Regions from separate parts of the Homo sapiens genome. Here all the other regions are linked to region 2. The links come from fine-mapping of genetic effects on gene expression. A gene starts in region 2. Each other region holds a variant in brackets. All regions are shown on one strand. Distances are from middle to middle. Region 1 overlaps PITPNA (phosphatidylinositol transfer protein alpha). Region 2 holds the start of PITPNA (phosphatidylinositol transfer protein alpha). Region 3 overlaps INPP5K (inositol polyphosphate-5-phosphatase K).

What was found. PIP is the estimated chance that this variant, and not a neighbour inherited with it, causes the effect.
Region 1: its variant is fine-mapped to the expression of PITPNA in whole blood (INTERVAL, PIP above 0.99). The same link has a PIP of 0.9 or more in esophagus mucosa.
Region 3: its variant is fine-mapped to the expression of PITPNA in gastroesophageal junction (GTEx, PIP 0.93).

Annotation. Positions count from the first base shown.
Region 1 is chr17:1,519,146-1,524,366 of GRCh38, reverse strand. It overlaps PITPNA (phosphatidylinositol transfer protein alpha), which reads left to right. Exons shown (of 12, transcript NM_006224.4): 11 at 2,722-2,788; 12 at 3,829-5,221. The coding sequence ends at 2,766. Among named protein-coding and RNA genes, the nearest start is that of PITPNA-AS1, 4.8 kb to the right of the region's middle. The variant T/C (reference allele first, on the strand shown) is at 2,713.
Region 2 is chr17:1,560,641-1,565,861 of GRCh38, reverse strand. It overlaps PITPNA (phosphatidylinositol transfer protein alpha), which reads left to right and starts at 3,070. Exons shown (of 12, transcript NM_006224.4): 1 at 3,070-3,321. The coding sequence starts at 3,302. RefSeq lists silencers at 2,898-3,177, 3,248-3,297, 3,778-3,907 and enhancers at 2,750-3,249, 4,018-4,117, 5,032-5,221.
Region 3 is chr17:1,499,506-1,504,720 of GRCh38, reverse strand. All of the region lies in intron 7 of INPP5K (inositol polyphosphate-5-phosphatase K), which reads left to right. Among named protein-coding and RNA genes, the nearest start is that of MYO1C, 9.4 kb to the right of the region's middle. The variant C/A (reference allele first, on the strand shown) is at 2,576.

The DNA.
Region 1 (5,221 bases), 41 kb after region 2:
TCTCAAAAAAAAAAAAAAAAAAAGGCCAGGTGCGATGGCTCACGCCTGTAATCCCAGCACTTTGGGAGGCCAAGGCGGGCGGATCATGAGGTCAGGACATGGAGACCATCCTGGCTAACATGGTGAAACCCCGTCTCTACTAAAAACACAAAAAATTAGCCGGGCGTGTTGGTGGGCACCTATAGTCTCAGCTACTCGGGAGGCTGAGGCAGGAGAATGGCGTGAACCCAGGAGGCAGAGCTTGCAGTGAGCCAAGATCGTGCCACTGCACACCAGCCTGGGTGACTGAGCGAGACTCCGTCTCAAAAAAAAAAAAAAAAAGAAAAAAGAAAAAAACTGAGGCTTAGAGAGCATTGCAGTAACTTACTCAAGGTCATACAATTAGTGATGGAGTCAGAATACAATCCAGGCCAGGTGCAGTGGCTCATTCCTGTAATCCCAGCACTTTGGGAGGCCATGGCGGGAGGACTACTTAAGTCCAGGGGTTCGAGACTAGCCTGGGCAATACAATGAGACCCTGTCCCCACACACACCGAAAAAATAAAAAATCAGCCAGGTGGCTGGGTGCAGTGGCTCACGCCTGTAATCCCAGCACTTTGGGAGGCTGAGGCAGGCAGATCGTGAGGTTAGGAGATTGAGATCATCCTGACCAACATGGTGAAACCCCGTCCCTATTAAAATACAAAAAAAAATTAGCCAGGCATGGTGGCGTGTGCCTATAGTCCCAGCTACTGGGGAGGCTGAGGCAGGGGAATTGCTTGAACCCGGGAGGCAGAGATTGCAGTGAGCCGAGATCACACCACTGCCATCCAGCCTGGCGACAGAGAGAGAGACTGTGTCTCAAAAAAAAAAAAAAAAAAAGCCAGGCGTGGTGGCACATGCCTGTAGTCCCAGCTTCTTGGGATGCTGAGGCAGGAGGATCACTTGAGCCAGGGAGTCGAGGCTGTAGTGAGCCATGATTGCGCCACTGCACTCCATCCTGGGCAACAGAGCCAGACCCTGTCTCAAACAAAACAATACAGTCTAGGGAGTTTCATTCTAGCAGCTATGCTCTTAGGTGCTCAAAATTTGTTGAACATTATAAAGAACAAAAGTTGAGCAGAAAACTAATGGATAGTGAAGAAATACTTATTGACATTCTTCACATAGAATGGAGTTTTCAAATCAGAACTGATTTTAGAGAGATGACGTCTACAGTATCCCCAGTGATGTCTGCCTGGAAGGTGCCAGTGACAGGGACCACTTGGTGCTTCCACAGAAGCCCCCATCCTGTTTTCCAGCAGCCTTGCACATCTGTGGATCTGAGACCTGCACCTGCACTTTCCACCTCTGCATCCTTGTGCCTAGTTCTGACACCACATTGTGCCCACCTTTAAACAGGTCAGGAAAGGGAAGTTCTGTTACTCTGCCGGGAACTCCTCTCCCGGAGAGCCACAGGATTTTCTCCCTCATTTCTCTCAGGTTTCATCTCAAACCTCACATACAAGCTTCTGTAACTACCTAAAATAGCACTTACCCACAGTCATTCTGTATCCGAGCAGCCCACAGTCCTAGCTGACATAGATGAATGTTTGTTCTCTGCCCATCCTGCCCCAGAATATAAGCTCCTTGAGGAGAGAACTGGTCTGTTTAGTTCACAGCTAAATATTCCCAGCCCTCTGGAAGTCCCTAGCACTAAAGAGATGCCTCACTGAGGCTGGGTGCGGTGGCTCACGCCTGTAATCCAAGCACTTCAGGAGGCCAAGGCAGGCAGATCATCTGAGGTCAGGAGTTCAAGATCAGCCTGGCCAAAATGGTGAAACCCCGTCTCCCCTAAAAATACAAAAATTAGCTGGGCGTGATGGTGCATACCTGCAATCCCAGCTACTTGGGAGGCTGAAGCAGGACAATCGCTTGAATCCAGGAGGCAGAGGTTGCAGTAAGCCAACTTTGCGCCACTGCACTCCAGCCTGGGCGACAGAGCAAGACTCCTCACACACACAAAAAAAGATGTTTCGGCCAGGCGCGGTGGCTCACGCCTGTAATCCCAGCACTTTGGGAGGCCGAGGCGGGTGGATCATGAGGTCAGGAGATCGAGACCATCCTGGCTAACAAGGTGAAACCCCGTCTCTACTAAAAATACAAAAAATTAGCCGGGCGCGGTGGCGGGCGCCTGTAGTCCCAGCTACTCGGGAGGCTGAGGCAGGAGAATGGCGTGAACCCGGGAAGCGGAGCTTGCAGTGAGCCGAGATTGCGCCACTGCAGTCCGCAGTCCGGCCTGGGCGGCAGAGCGAGACTCCGTCTCAAAAAAAAAAAGATGTTTCATAAGTATTTGTTGAATGAATAAATGAATGAAACGGGCCAAGTGTGGTGGCTCACACCTATGCTGTAATCCCAGCACTTTGGGAGGTTGAGGCAGAGGATCGTGTGAGGCCAGGAGCCCAAGACCAGCCTGGTCAACATAGGAAGACCCCCCCACACACACCTCTTTACCAAAAAAAAAAAAAAAAAAAAGGTGCTTCAAACACCGTGACACGAGAGAACTAGAAATCATGGATGGTGAGACCAGTGACACAGATCTGGAAATGTATGGCTTCGAGTCCATATGCAGAATTCTTCCGTCCTTCCAGTGTCTTGCTTTTTACACAAAATATGCCCCACCCCACCTATGGGCAGGACTGAGAAGGCAGGAGTTCCATCAGCAGCAGGAGCCTTCCATTTGTCCTGCTTTTT[T/C]TGTTCCAGATGAGACAAAAGGACCCAGTGAAAGGAATGACAGCAGATGACTAAAGCCGCCTTTCCCCTCTGCACTGTACGTACCAAATTTCTCACTGTGCGTGTCACAGACGCTAAAATCAGTTTGGGTTTCAAGGCCTCAGCAGCTCACTATGGAGTCAGAAAACCTATTCCTCCTTCCCTCTAGTAATGATGGTTGCCACGCTCGATAGCTCTCCACTTCCACTAGGAGATTATGGCCCTTGGGACATTTCAGGGACATTTTCCAAAGAACCACCCAGATAGAGACAATGGACAGGGAGGGGGTGGTGGATATAGAAGGGGAGTTCATCTGCTGCGAATCACTCCTCCTGTCTGCCAGCTTGATCCATCTCAAGTTGCAGCTGTCATGTTGGGCACTCCCTGGCCTTCCCACGCCAGCGCCAGCTCCCAAAAGCTGCCATTACCTGCCCTTCCCCCTTGGAAAACTTGCTGGCCAGACAGCTTTTGTTAGCACCCACTGTTGTCTGGTGCTTCATTTCCTTCTTTATACCCCCGATCCCATACTAAGCTGCCCTCATCAGAGGTGGCATCTTTCAGATGCTGGGAGGGTGTTTCTGCCCAGGTCACAGGGCCAGATTGGGGGCCCCTTGTTTCATGTTGTCACTTTTCCCCAAGCCCCCTCCTTCCGTTAACTCTCGGTGCTGGTTTCCCAGTGCCCTGTACACCACCCGAGTCATGGGATTCCAGCAGCTCAAAGCAGTCTTAATCACTGAATGAAAAACCTGGCTCTGCTCCCAATTAGCCTCAGAGAGAAAATTATTTTTACAAATAAAAGCTGGCCTCTAACCCTACGGGCAAGGAGGGCCAGGGTCTCACCAGGAGTGACGGCAGGCCCTGCTTACTCTCCCTGCCCCATGTTCCCAAAGCAGCCTCGGGGAGGCTGGAGGGTGGAATGAGGCGGACTGCTGTGATGCCAGCTTCTCAGTCACTGCTCTGGGCCTCAGTGCTCTCCCCCACTCCCTTCCCCACCCACCCACTGGCTTCCCTCCTCCTCTTGAAATTATCCATTCAGGACGATTTACAGTGTTTCTGTTTTCTCCTCTTGCTTCCTTAATACTTTCATTTTTCTTCTAGTTTTGCAAGACAGTGGTCAACAGGAAGACCCAGCAGCTCCACCCTCCCAAGTGACAGGCCATTTTCGGACGCAGCCGTTCTGTGCCCATTCTTCAGGCAACTTTCGATTCCTTACTGTAGCTAATTCTAGATGCCCTTCAGTATTGTGAACAAATAGACCGTCTGGTGTCACAGAGCCCGCGTGTGCAGGAGCCTGCTCCTCCGAGATACGTGGCGTGTAGGTTGCTGTAGTTACAGCGCCTCCGTCTCTCTCCATTGTGTTCCGATCCATTTCTGTGTGTTCCCCCAACCTTTATTTCCAAGTGACATTTTCAGTCTTTCAAATAGCTGCCTTTTGTGATGTGGTGATTTAAATGATTTAAGTTCATTTGTTCTCAACCTTGGGGTAAACTGAGGTATTTTGCTTCCTGGGAAGATCTTCGCAATTTTGAGTGCTCCTGTGGGGAGCGGGGATGAGCTAAAGATACAATGTTTCCCTGCCCCGCACCGCTTCCACAAAATAGCAATGTGGTTTTGCAGCTCTGACTTCTGCTCCCAGTAACCCATCGTTAGGGCACTCTAGCACTATGGAGGTACCCAAGGCTCAGCCAGTCTCTATTTAAGAAAATTTAACAAATACGAGTAACCCTGTCCCAATCACTGAATCTCTAGTTACTACTCTTAGAAACACCTGTGGCTTCTTGGCCCTCCTGTTGCCCGCTCTGAATCTCTCTGCAGTCTACAAAATCGCCCCAGTCAACTCTCCACTTGGAGGGAATTGTCCAGTGTGGCCCCTAGAATTGAGTCACCCCCTAGATACCAACTGTCTGACCCCGAGGAGCTCTGTAAGTCCCTGCTCCTCCTCTTCCCTTTGGGGCTGGTGCTGCCACTCAGCAATAATCCTCTTTTCTCTGTGCTTTCTTAGGTCCCTGTCCTCTGTCTTTGAGGCTGGTTAGGAAGCAAGAGTCCTGATCTTTCATGCTGCACAATATGAGCATGCAAAAAGCTTTTTCCAGCAGAACATGTTCCCTCGTCTCCAGTTGCCGGAAAGGAATTTGGGGATCAAGAACTTAGCTCGTCCTACCCCCATGTTGAGTTCTGCCCTGGAAAACCCAAAGCAAGTAGTGATCATAGTACAGAACCCGACCAAAGTAGGCTGGTGAGGAAGTCCAGGCTCCAGGGGAACAGACGCTGCCCAGTGTTCATAGCTTCCTGCAACTTGACAGAGCCTGAGTTTGCCTCTTAGTGGGAGAATGAGAGAGAGCTGTAGTGTCACCTGACATTCCCCAAACCTTGTGAAGCACGTTGGCCTAAGTGTGCCGTGATCCCAGCCCACACTAGCCTGGGTGCATCTGCTAATGGGAGACCAAATCTTTGTCCGGGAAGCAAGAAGTGGGTGGGAGAATGTATCCTG
Region 2 (5,221 bases):
TGAACTTCTCTAAAGGAAACTATAGCATTTTTTAGATTAGCAGGGAAATTAGAATATGAACTGGGGATGAGATAGCATCAGGAAATCATTATTAATTTTGTTAAGTATGACAATGGCATTATGCATTTGTAAGAAATGTGCATATTTCTAGAATGTGCACTGTAACCTGGAGGGGTGAGATGACATGATGTCCAAGGTCGGCTTGTTTTTTTTTATTTTAATTTAAATTTAATTTTATTTTCTTATTATACTTAAGTTCTAGGGTACATGTGCACAACGTGCAGGCTTGTTACATATGTATACATGTGCCATGTTGGTGTGCTGCACCCATTAACTAGTCATTTACATTAGGAATATCTCCTAATGCTATCCCTCCCCCTCCCCCCGTCCCACAACAGGCCCCAGAGTGTGATGTTCCCCTTCCTGTGTCTAAGTATTCTCATTGTTCAATTCCCACCTATGAATGAGAACATGCAGTGTTTGGTTTTCTGTCCTTGCTATAGTTTGCTGAGAATGATGGTTTCCAGATTCATCCATGTCCTTACAAAGGATATTAACTCATCCTTTTTTATGGCTGCATAGTATTCCATGGTGTATATGTGCCACATTATCTGAGACTTTTTTTTTTTTGAGACAGAGTCTAACTCTCGCCAGGCTGGAGCGCAGTGACACGATCTTGGCTCGCTGCAACCTCTGCCTCCTGAATTCAAGTGATCCTCCTGCATTCAAGTGATCCTCCTGCCTCAGCCTCCCGAGTAGCTGGGACTACAGGCGCGTGCCACCACACCCAGCTAATTTTTGTATTTTTAGTAGAGACAGGGTTTCACCATTTCAGCCAGGATGGTCTTGATCTCTTGACCTGATGATCCGCCCGCCTCAGCCTCCCAAAGTGGTAGGATTATAGGAGTGAGCCACCGCGCCCGGCTGTGCCACATTTTCTTTATCCAGTCTGTCATTGATGGGCATTTGGGTTGGTTCCAAGTCTTTGCTATTGTGAATAGTGGTCGGCTTGTTTTTTTGAGACAGAATCTTGCTCTGTCGCCCAGGCTGGAGTGCGGTGGCATGATCTCGGCTCACTGCAACCTCTGCCTCCAGGGCTCAAGCGATTCTCCTACCTCAGCCTCCCGAGTAACTGAGACGACAGGCACATGCCACCACACTGAGCTAATTTTTGTTTTAGTAGAGATGGGGTTTTACCATGTTGGCCAGGCTGGTCTTGAACTCCTGGCCTCAAGTGATTCGCCCGCCCCAGCCTCCCAAAGTGCTGGGAATCCAGGTGTGAGGCACTCAGCCTGGCCCCCACTCTAGGATCTGATAAGTGAGCACAGTGCTCAGGGCAGTCGCGGGCCGCCAGTCACATCCTGATAGCAACACGGCCAGCTGCTCCACCCTCCCTTCCCAAGTCCCTGTCTTAGGCAGCCCACTCCCATCTCCCCTGGATGCCCCTCTAGCGTCCTGCGCTGAGTGTGAGTCCAGCACTGGAGTCATTACCTGCCCCCATGCCAGCCTGTCTTGCCTGTGTTCTCAGAGAAGACAGTACCGTCCACCCCGGCTCCCAGGCCAGAGACCTCGCTGCTTTTCTCTCCTCCTCTCAGCCAATGAGTCAACAAGTCTCACGGAGTTTACCTTCTGAGTTGCTCCTGAATCCATCCCTTCCTTTTCTTCCCTCCCACTGTCCTAGTCCACCTGCACCTGGACATCTGCAGCAGCCTCCTCGCCGGTCTCCCTGCCTACGCTCTGGCATTCCATCCCCTCTGTCCACCCAACCACTAGAGTGAGCCTTCGCCCAGGACACCCGCTCATGTCACTGCTCAGAGCCCTTACATGCCCTCCCACCGCCCTTAGGGTGGACTCCAAATACCTTATCATCGTTCACCAGGAACCCTCCCCTATTGAGCTGCTCAGCCCTGAAATGTTCTGTTCCACTCACTTGTCAGTTCTCCAAATGCACCATGCTCTCCCTCTTGCCTCCAGCCTTTGCATTCACTCTGCCTGCTATGCTCTTCTCCGAAGCCCTCTGCAGATCTGAGAATCTCTTCCTCCAGGAAGCCTTCCCTGACTACATCCCTGACGCTCAATTAGGTGCCCCTCCGTGTAATGCCGCTAAGCCTGTGTCTCATTTCTCACAGCCCTTTTCATTCTTTTTTTTTTTTTTTTTTTTGATGCAGAGTCTCGCTCTGTCGCCCCAGCTGGAGTGCAATGGTGCGATCTCGGCTCACTGCAACCTCCGCCTCCAGGGTTCAAGCGATTCTCCTGCCTCATCCTCCCGAGCAGCTGGGACTACCACCACCACGTCCACCACCACGCCCGGCTAATTTTTGTACTTTTAGTAGAGATGGGGTTTCGCCATCTGGTCTGGAACTCCTGACCTCAGGTGATGCGCCCGCCTGAGTGCTGCATTACAGGCATGATGTGCCTGGGATTACTGCCAGGAGCCACCGCGCCCGGCCTCACAGCCCTTTTCTTTTCTTTTTTTTTTTTTTGAGACGAAGTTTCACTCTTGTCCCCCAGGCTGGAGTGCAATGGCGCGATCGCGATCTCGGCTCACTGCAAACTCTGCCTCCCGGTACAAGCGATTCTCCCGCCTCAGCCTCCCGTGTAGCTGGGATTACAGGTGCGTGCCTCCACGCCCAGCTAATTTTTGTATTTTTAGTAGAGACGGGGTTTCATCATGTTGGCCAGGCTGGTCTCGAACTCCTGACCTCAGGTGATCCGCCCGCCTCGGCCTCCCAAGGTGCAAGGATTACAGGCGTGGGCCACCGCGCGCGGCTATTAATATTTTTTGAAACAACCTTTTCCTGGGTCTCAATTCCCTCAACCGGGGAGGCCCCCCAGCCAGCACCCGCGTGCATCCGTGGCGGTTCACACCGAGGACGGTGACGGACACCCTAGTCTGCTCCGCCTTCTGCCGGGTCTGGCCCCAGCCGCGGGGCCCCACCTCGGAACCGACAGCGCCGCCGCGGCCCACTTAAGGACGGGAGGGCGGGCCTGGGAAGGCTCGGCCCCGCGTGACGTCAGCGCGCACCGCGGCGTGTGACGCTCTGGTTGCCGCAGAGACGCCCCGCCCCCGCGCGGCGCTGCGGAACCGGAGCTCCGGGCGGCGTCGGCAGCGGCGCGAGAGGCGACGAGGCCCGGGCGGCAGGAGCCGGCGCGGCGACCGCGGCGAGGGCGGCGGGGACGGAGCAGAGCACGACGAAGACGCACAGGCAGCCGGGCCGGGCCGGGCCACGGGGAGAGCGGCCGGCGGGCAGCGGGCGGGAGGCCGGGCGGGCCGCGGGCAGCCACCGAGCCGCGAAGCGACATGGTGCTGCTCAAGGAGTAGTGAGTGTCCGGCGGCCGTGCGGAAGCGGGGAGGAGGGAGGGTGGGGACGGCCGCCGGGGCGACGGCGCGGCGAGGGACGCAGGGCCCGGATGGACGGAGGGGCAGCAGGGACGGAGGGTGCCTGAGGCGGGCCCAGCGGGGATGGAGGGGATCCGGGGCGGGCGGCACGTGAGGCGGGGCCCACGGGGCACGGAGGGGCGGCCGGGGCGTGGAGGGGCGGCCGGGGCGTGGAGGGGCAGCCGGGGCGTTCGGCATCTGAGCCGGGGCCCACGGGGCATGGACGGGCAGCCGGGGCATGGAGGGGCCCACGGGCACGGAGGGACAACCCGGGCGGACGGCTCCTCAGGCGCCCCGGGGGCCTCGGAGGCCCAAGTGGACCCGAGGAGAGGCCGGGGACAGCGAGGGCGAGGCCAGGCCCGAGACGGGGTCAGGGCAGGGAGAGCTGGCCCGGGACTGGGGGAGGCCGAGGGGACGCCGAGCGCTGGGAGTGCTGTGGGGTCGCTCTGCGCGGGCCGAGGGCGCGGGCTCAGCCGGGACTGCAGGCGGCGCTGAGAGGCCCCGCGGCGGCCGAGGAAGAGGCGCACCGGGGCAGGCAGGGCCTCCCGGCGGTGGGGAAAGGTGGAGGGCCGAACAGTTCACACGGAGAGCCGGGTGGATGGGTCAGAGGCTCCGCGATGGAGTTGGGATGGGGATGGGGAGGAGTGGCCGCCTTAGGCATCGGGTGAGGGGTGGTGGTAAGTGGACACAGGAGGAGGACTAGGAAGTCAGGGCCTGGCTGGGGAGACAGGTGAAGGGTCTGAGGACATGCAGAGGGGGCTGAGATGCGGGCCGGAGTAACCGTGGTGCCCAAGCAGCTGGTGCGGAAGAGGAGGCTTTTGGAACAAGCTTGGGATGACTGCTTGGGACGTGGGGAGACTTGGGCGAGGAGGCCAGAAAATGTTGGGTAGGGTCCGAAGTGGAGAAGGCCGGGAAGTTACCGGGGTCGAGGCTGGTCCGGAAAGAGAGTATGTTGGGATGAGTATACCTGCCGTTGGAGATGGGGGAGACCAGGGCAGGGCCAGCTTGTTTCTAGGGGATTCTCAGTCTTGGTGCAAAGAGATGGGGAAATTCTTTGAGGAATTGAGGGGTCCATGGAGCCGTGAACTGAGGAGAGATGGTGGAAGGGGTGGGGAGCTCTTGAGTAGTGAAGAGGGGTGCGTGGGAAACTGGTGACTTCTGGAAGGAGTTGCAGGATGACGGGTTTGCTCCTGAAATCCAGGGGACTGGGGGACAGGTGGAGATGTTTGGTGTGCTAAATCTTTCAAGTACAAGATGAGCCATCGTTGAAGCTCAGGGTTCCAAGTAAGCATCACAGGACATTTTTCTCCCCAAAGAGGAGAGATAGGATGGGTGTGTGTGTGTGTGTGCGTGTGCGTGTGTGCACAGAATTTACAGTGAAACTGCTTTCCTGGAGGGAGGGCCAGAAGCCCCAGGAGTGGGAGATGGTCAAACAGAGAGCAACTTGTGAGGCAGCCAGGCAGGTGTGCAGAGAGCTCTTGCCACTTTGTCAGCGATCGCACTTTGACCATCCCCACCAGGCTGGCTCCTTGGAGGTGCTTAGGACATTTAGGACATAGAGTGGAGTTTGGGTAACAGAGGGAGCTGAGACCCACATGTCATCCCAGCTAAACACCTCATCTGAAGAGCATTATTTTGAGGCCTCATCCCCTCTGTTTCTTGACATCCAGTCTGATGTTAATTCAGCCAGGGCTCGGAGCTTTTCCTGGTGAGGAGGAAGAACTTTACGATGCCAACAGGAGAACGTGGTGCACTTTAGATTTTAATCTTCAGTGTCCAGACTGACAGGCTTTTCCCATCCTTCTGATTCTTTTTCCTGTTCCCAAATGAACCCTAGAATCT
Region 3 (5,215 bases), 61 kb after region 2:
GTATCAGTTCCTACCATGTCCTCGTTAGGTAAACAGTGTTATTATTGCCTGTTTACAAGGAAAGCAACTGAGTCTCAAAGAATATATAAGTAAGGAGTAACAGGCTTCTTCATCGCACGAGGATTGGAACTCATATCTGTGTCTGTAGACTCATGAGCCTTCGGTACTGCTTCCCTTTGGCTGGAGCCCAGGAAATGCAAGACTGTCTGGGCGGGAACAGGGGACATGGTAACTGAAATACTCCTGGCTGGGGCCAGGATCCAGGGGCAGCTGGGAGTTTTGCAGTGAGCAGGGCCTGAGCCCACCTGGGGAACAGATATTCCTGTCTAATGACACTGTTATTTTATCCTTGGAAACCCAGTTGAGACATCACTTCTCCTAGGACGCCTTCCCGGCCCCTCCTCATCTCACTGAGAGTTCCTCTCCTGCCTTGTGCCACCCCCAGCCTTGCGCATGCCATGCTTTCAGTGTTGCTTTTGAGACACAGCGTACCTTTCTTACTGTACTGTGATTGCCCAGAGAGCAGAGACGATCTGATTTAGGACCATCCCTGGGAGTAGCACAGTACCTGGCATATGTTACCAAGCCTGGGAGTTAGTCAATAGAAGGTTTCCAGAACTCCGTGCAGAAGGTTGGAGCAAATGTTAAGGAGGTGAACAGCTAAAGCTAGGAGAGGCCTGTCAGACTTCCTGTCAAGGACAGTATCTTGAAGGAGGCACAGAGTTTCGCAGAAAGCAGAAAGGCGGGCTTTCCAATCAGTCAGCACACTGACGAGAGGAACCTGGAGGGGGCCGGTTTGATGAAGTGACTGTGAGCGTTAGTGTGCTGGGCCAGCCACTACGGTGTCCCTGAGCCAAGATGTAATGAGAAACGAGGCCAGCTCCCTTATAGGGAGGGCAAAAGGGCTGAGGGCAGGGCGGGAATCCTGCTAAAGTCCGGGGTTACACTGGAGTTTTGTTATAGTTGCCACTGTGAGCCCAGACAAAGTGTTTTATTTTTTTCGAGACAGAGTTTTCTTCTTGTCACCCAGGCTGGAGTGCAATGGCATGATCTTGGCTCACTGCAACGTCCGCCTCCTGGGCTCAAGTGATTCTCGCCTGCCTCAGCCTCCTGAATAGCTAGGATTACAGGCACCCGCCACCATGCCTGGCTAATTTTTTGTATTTTTAGTAGAGATGAGGTTTCACCATCAGAGTGAGAACCCTCCCCCTGCAAAATTTTTTTAAAAGGCCTGGTGTGGCCGGGTGCGGTGGCTCACGCCTGAAATCCCAGCACTTTGGGAGGCCAGGCGGGTGGATCACGAGGTCAGGAGATCGAGACCATCCTGGTGAACACGGTGAAACCCCGTCTCTACTAAAAATAAAAAAAAATTAGCCGGGCATGGTGGCGGGCACCTGTAGTCCCAGCTACTCGGGAGGCTGAGGCAGGAGAATGGCGTGAACCCAGGAGGCGGAGGTTGCAGTGAGCCGAGATCACGCCACTGCACTCCAGCCTGAGTGACAGAGCGAGACTTCGTCTCAAAAAAAAAAAAAAAAGGCCAGGCGTGATGGGTCACACCTCTAAACCCAGCAATTTGGGAGGCAGAGACAGGATGATCACTTGAACCCAGGAGCTCAGGTTCAGCCTGGGCAACATGGTGAAACCCCATCTCTACAAAAAAATACAAAAGTTGGCATGGTGGCACATACCCGTAGTCCCAGCTACTCAGGAGACTGGGGTGGGAGCCTTGCTTGAGTCCAGGAGGTTGAGGCTGTAGTGGGCTGTGATCACACCACTGCACTCCAGCCTGGGCAACAGTGAGACCCTGTCTTAAAAAGAAAAAAAAAACAGCTGGGCATGGTGTGTACCCCTGAAGTCCCAGCTCCTCAGGAGGCTGAGGCAGGAGGATCATTTGAGCCTCGGAGTTCAAGGAGGCTGCAGTGAGCTAGGAGGACACCACTGCACTCCAGCCTGCATGACAGCAAGACCCTGTCTCTAAAGAAAAACAAGGTGGAGTGGAGAGAACTTGGTTAATTTGTACACGCTCACTTTGCTTGTTTCTTGGATTTTGCTAAACAGGCTCCTCAAGGACTTTGTCCATCCTATTTCTCATATCCCCAGTTGCGGGGCACATAAGAAGGGCTAAGTAAATCTTGGTATGCCCAGTGATCAGCCTGGCCGTGGCAAGGAAAAGGAAAAAAGGGGGGTGGGGGTGGGCTGAGAGTCCTGAGGAGGAAGGAGAGACAGGCTGTGGTCAGGGCTTGGGGAAGACCCTTACATGACAGCATATATGGGCTCCAAACCATCACAGGGAAGTTAGGGAGGGAGAATGCTTTGAAAGAGAGAACGTGCATTTGTGTGGTTCATTACCAAGTTTGTTTGTTTGTTTGTTTGAGACGGAGTCTCGCTCTGTCGCCCAGGCTGGAGTGCAGTGGCGCGATCTCCACTCACTACAAGCTCTGTCTCCCGGGTTCACGCCATTCTCTTGCCTCAGCCTCCTGAGTAGCTGGGACTACAGGCGCCCGTCACCACGCCTGGCTAATTTTTTGTATTTTTAGTAGAGACGGGGTTTCACCATGTTAGCCAGGATGGTCTC[C/A]ATGTCCTGACCTCATGATCTGCCCGCCTTGGCCTCCCAAAGTGCTGGGATTACAGGCGTGAGCCACCGTGCCTGGCCCTATGTTTGTTTGTTTTTTTCTTTTTTTTTTTTGAGATGGAGTCTTGCTCTGTTGCCCAGGCTGGAATGCAACAATGCAATCTTGGCTCACTGAAACCTCCGCTTCCCAGGTTCAAGCGATTCTCCTGCCTCAGCCTCCTGAGTAGCTGGGGTTACAGGCACATGCCACCACGCCTGGCAAATTTGTGTGTGTGTGTGTGTGTGTGTGTTTTTAGTAGAGACGGGGTTTCACCATGTTGGCCAGGCTGGTCTTGAACTCCTGACCTTGTGATCCGCCCGCCTCAGCCTCCCACAGTGCTGGGATTACAGGCGTGAGCCACCGTGCCCAGCCCCATTACCAAGTTGTAAGCATTGCTAGGCACCTGCTGTCCAAGGCAGATTCAGGGACGCAGTGTCTGTGGTCTCTGGGATGGGAATACCACATTCCAGTGCCCTCTGAACACTCCTTAGAAGAGTGAAAGATTGGAAATGACCCAAGGAGCCAACAGGCAGACCAGGGTTAGTCAAAGTTACCGCTTCGTGACCACCCCCTTGACGCCCTTTAATTTCATTACTGCTCTTTGAAGTAAGTACTGTTATCACCCCGTCTTAACAGCTGAAGAAACTGAGGCTTAGAGAAATGAAGTCACTTGCCCAGGGGCATACAGCTCTCAATTAACAGGACGGACCCTTCCCCCAACTGGTCTCTGATTCAAAAGTCTGAGCTCACCACTGTAACGCCATTCTCCTCAGTTGCTAGAATACTTACTCTTTTACTGTTGAAGGGACACCAGTACATTGGGAACATTTATTTAAAATAGCAGTTGAATAGGCCAGGCACGGTGGCTCACGCCTATAATCCCAGCACTTTGGGAGGCCGAGGCGGGCGGATCACAAGGTCAGGAGTTCAAGACCAGCCTGGCCAGCATGGTGAAACCCAGTCTCTACTAAAAATACAAAAATTAGCTGGGCATGGTGGCTCAACGCCTATAATCCCAGCTACTTGGGAGGCTGAGGCAGGAGAATCGCTTGAACCCGGGAGGCAGAGGTTGCAGTGAGCTGAGATTGCGCCACTGCACTCCAGCCTGGGCGATAGCGAGACTCCGTCTTAAAAAAAAAAAAAAAAAAAAGCAGTTGAATAAAGAAGGAGACAAAAATAGTGTTTCCAACTGCGAGTATATGGAGCTGTAAACATTAAGATTAGACGGACATTTTTGAGGGACGAGCTTCAGCTTGGGTTTTTAGTAAGTGTACCTGGTTATTGAGTACCTGTGTGCCAGGATCTGTGCTAATGCTGAGGATACACAGGACACTCCAACAGCTAAGTCCTTGCCTTCAGGGCTTACACCTAAGTGACATGCTGAGTGGGAAACAGAAAATTGCAATGTAGTGTAATCGTATAATACTGGTATAAAATGTTTCAGTGGCCGGGCGCGGTGGCTCACGCCTGTAATCCAGCACTTTGGGAGGCCAAGGCGAGCAGATCACGAGGTCAGGAGATCAAGACCATCCTGGCTAATGCGGTGAAACCCCGTCTCTACTAAAAATACAAAAAAGTTAGCCAGGCATGGTGGCAGGCGCCTGTAATCCCAGCTATTCTGGAGGCTGAGGCAGGAGAATTGCATGAACCTGGGAGGCGGAGCTTGCAGTGAGCCGAGATTGCGCCAGTGCACTCCAGCCTGGGCAACAGAGCGAGACTCCGTCTCAAAAAAAAAAAAAAACTTTGGAAGCAAAAAGCTAATGTCTGGGATGGTTTCGGCAAAGGCCTCTCCCTGGTGAAGAAAGGTGTTCCAGGCAGCAAATACTGCAAAAGCAAAGGTCCAGAGGCTTGAGAGAGTCACCAAGGTGGAGTGGGTCTGGGGAAGTGGTGTGAGATGAAGGATGGGGTGGTCAGACTCCTGAGCCCCTTGAAAGCCCTACTTGGGGACTTTAACTTTATTCTGGAGGCAGTGAAGATGCCTTAAAGGTTCTAAAATAGCCGGGTGCCCTGGCACATGCCTGTGGTCCCAGCTGGTCAGGAGGCGGAGGTGGGGGGTTGCTTGAAGCCCAGGCATTTGAAGCTGCAGTGAGTTAGGATTGTGCCACCGCACTCAGCCTGGGCAACACAGCAAGACCCTGTCGATGGATTGATCAATCAATAGGTAGGTAGATAGGATTCAACACAGTGAGACCTGTCGATCGATCAATAGATGAGATAGAGTGTGTGAGACCCTGTCTATAGATTGATTGATTGATTGATCCAATTAGGCTTTATTACTCTGGGTTGATTCAAGAAAGGAGATTGTCCATGAAGGGGGTGGAACCCAGAAACCGCAGCTGTCCTGCTCCCCCGCCACACACACACCCCACCTCCAGGAGTCAGAGCTGCTGGTCTCCAGGAGGGCAGGGCCTCAAGGACAAGGTGGCCTTAGAAACTGCCACAGTAGTTGCTTCGGAAGGCTGGGTTATGGGTCAGAGACTCGTCTTTGGTCAACTTCAGTTACCTAGAGGAGGAATGCATTTTGTCTCCGGAGCGTATTACCTTTTCCAAACCCCTCAGGGAAACTGGCAAGTGAAGAACAGGTGGGAGGTCTCTCAGTCGAC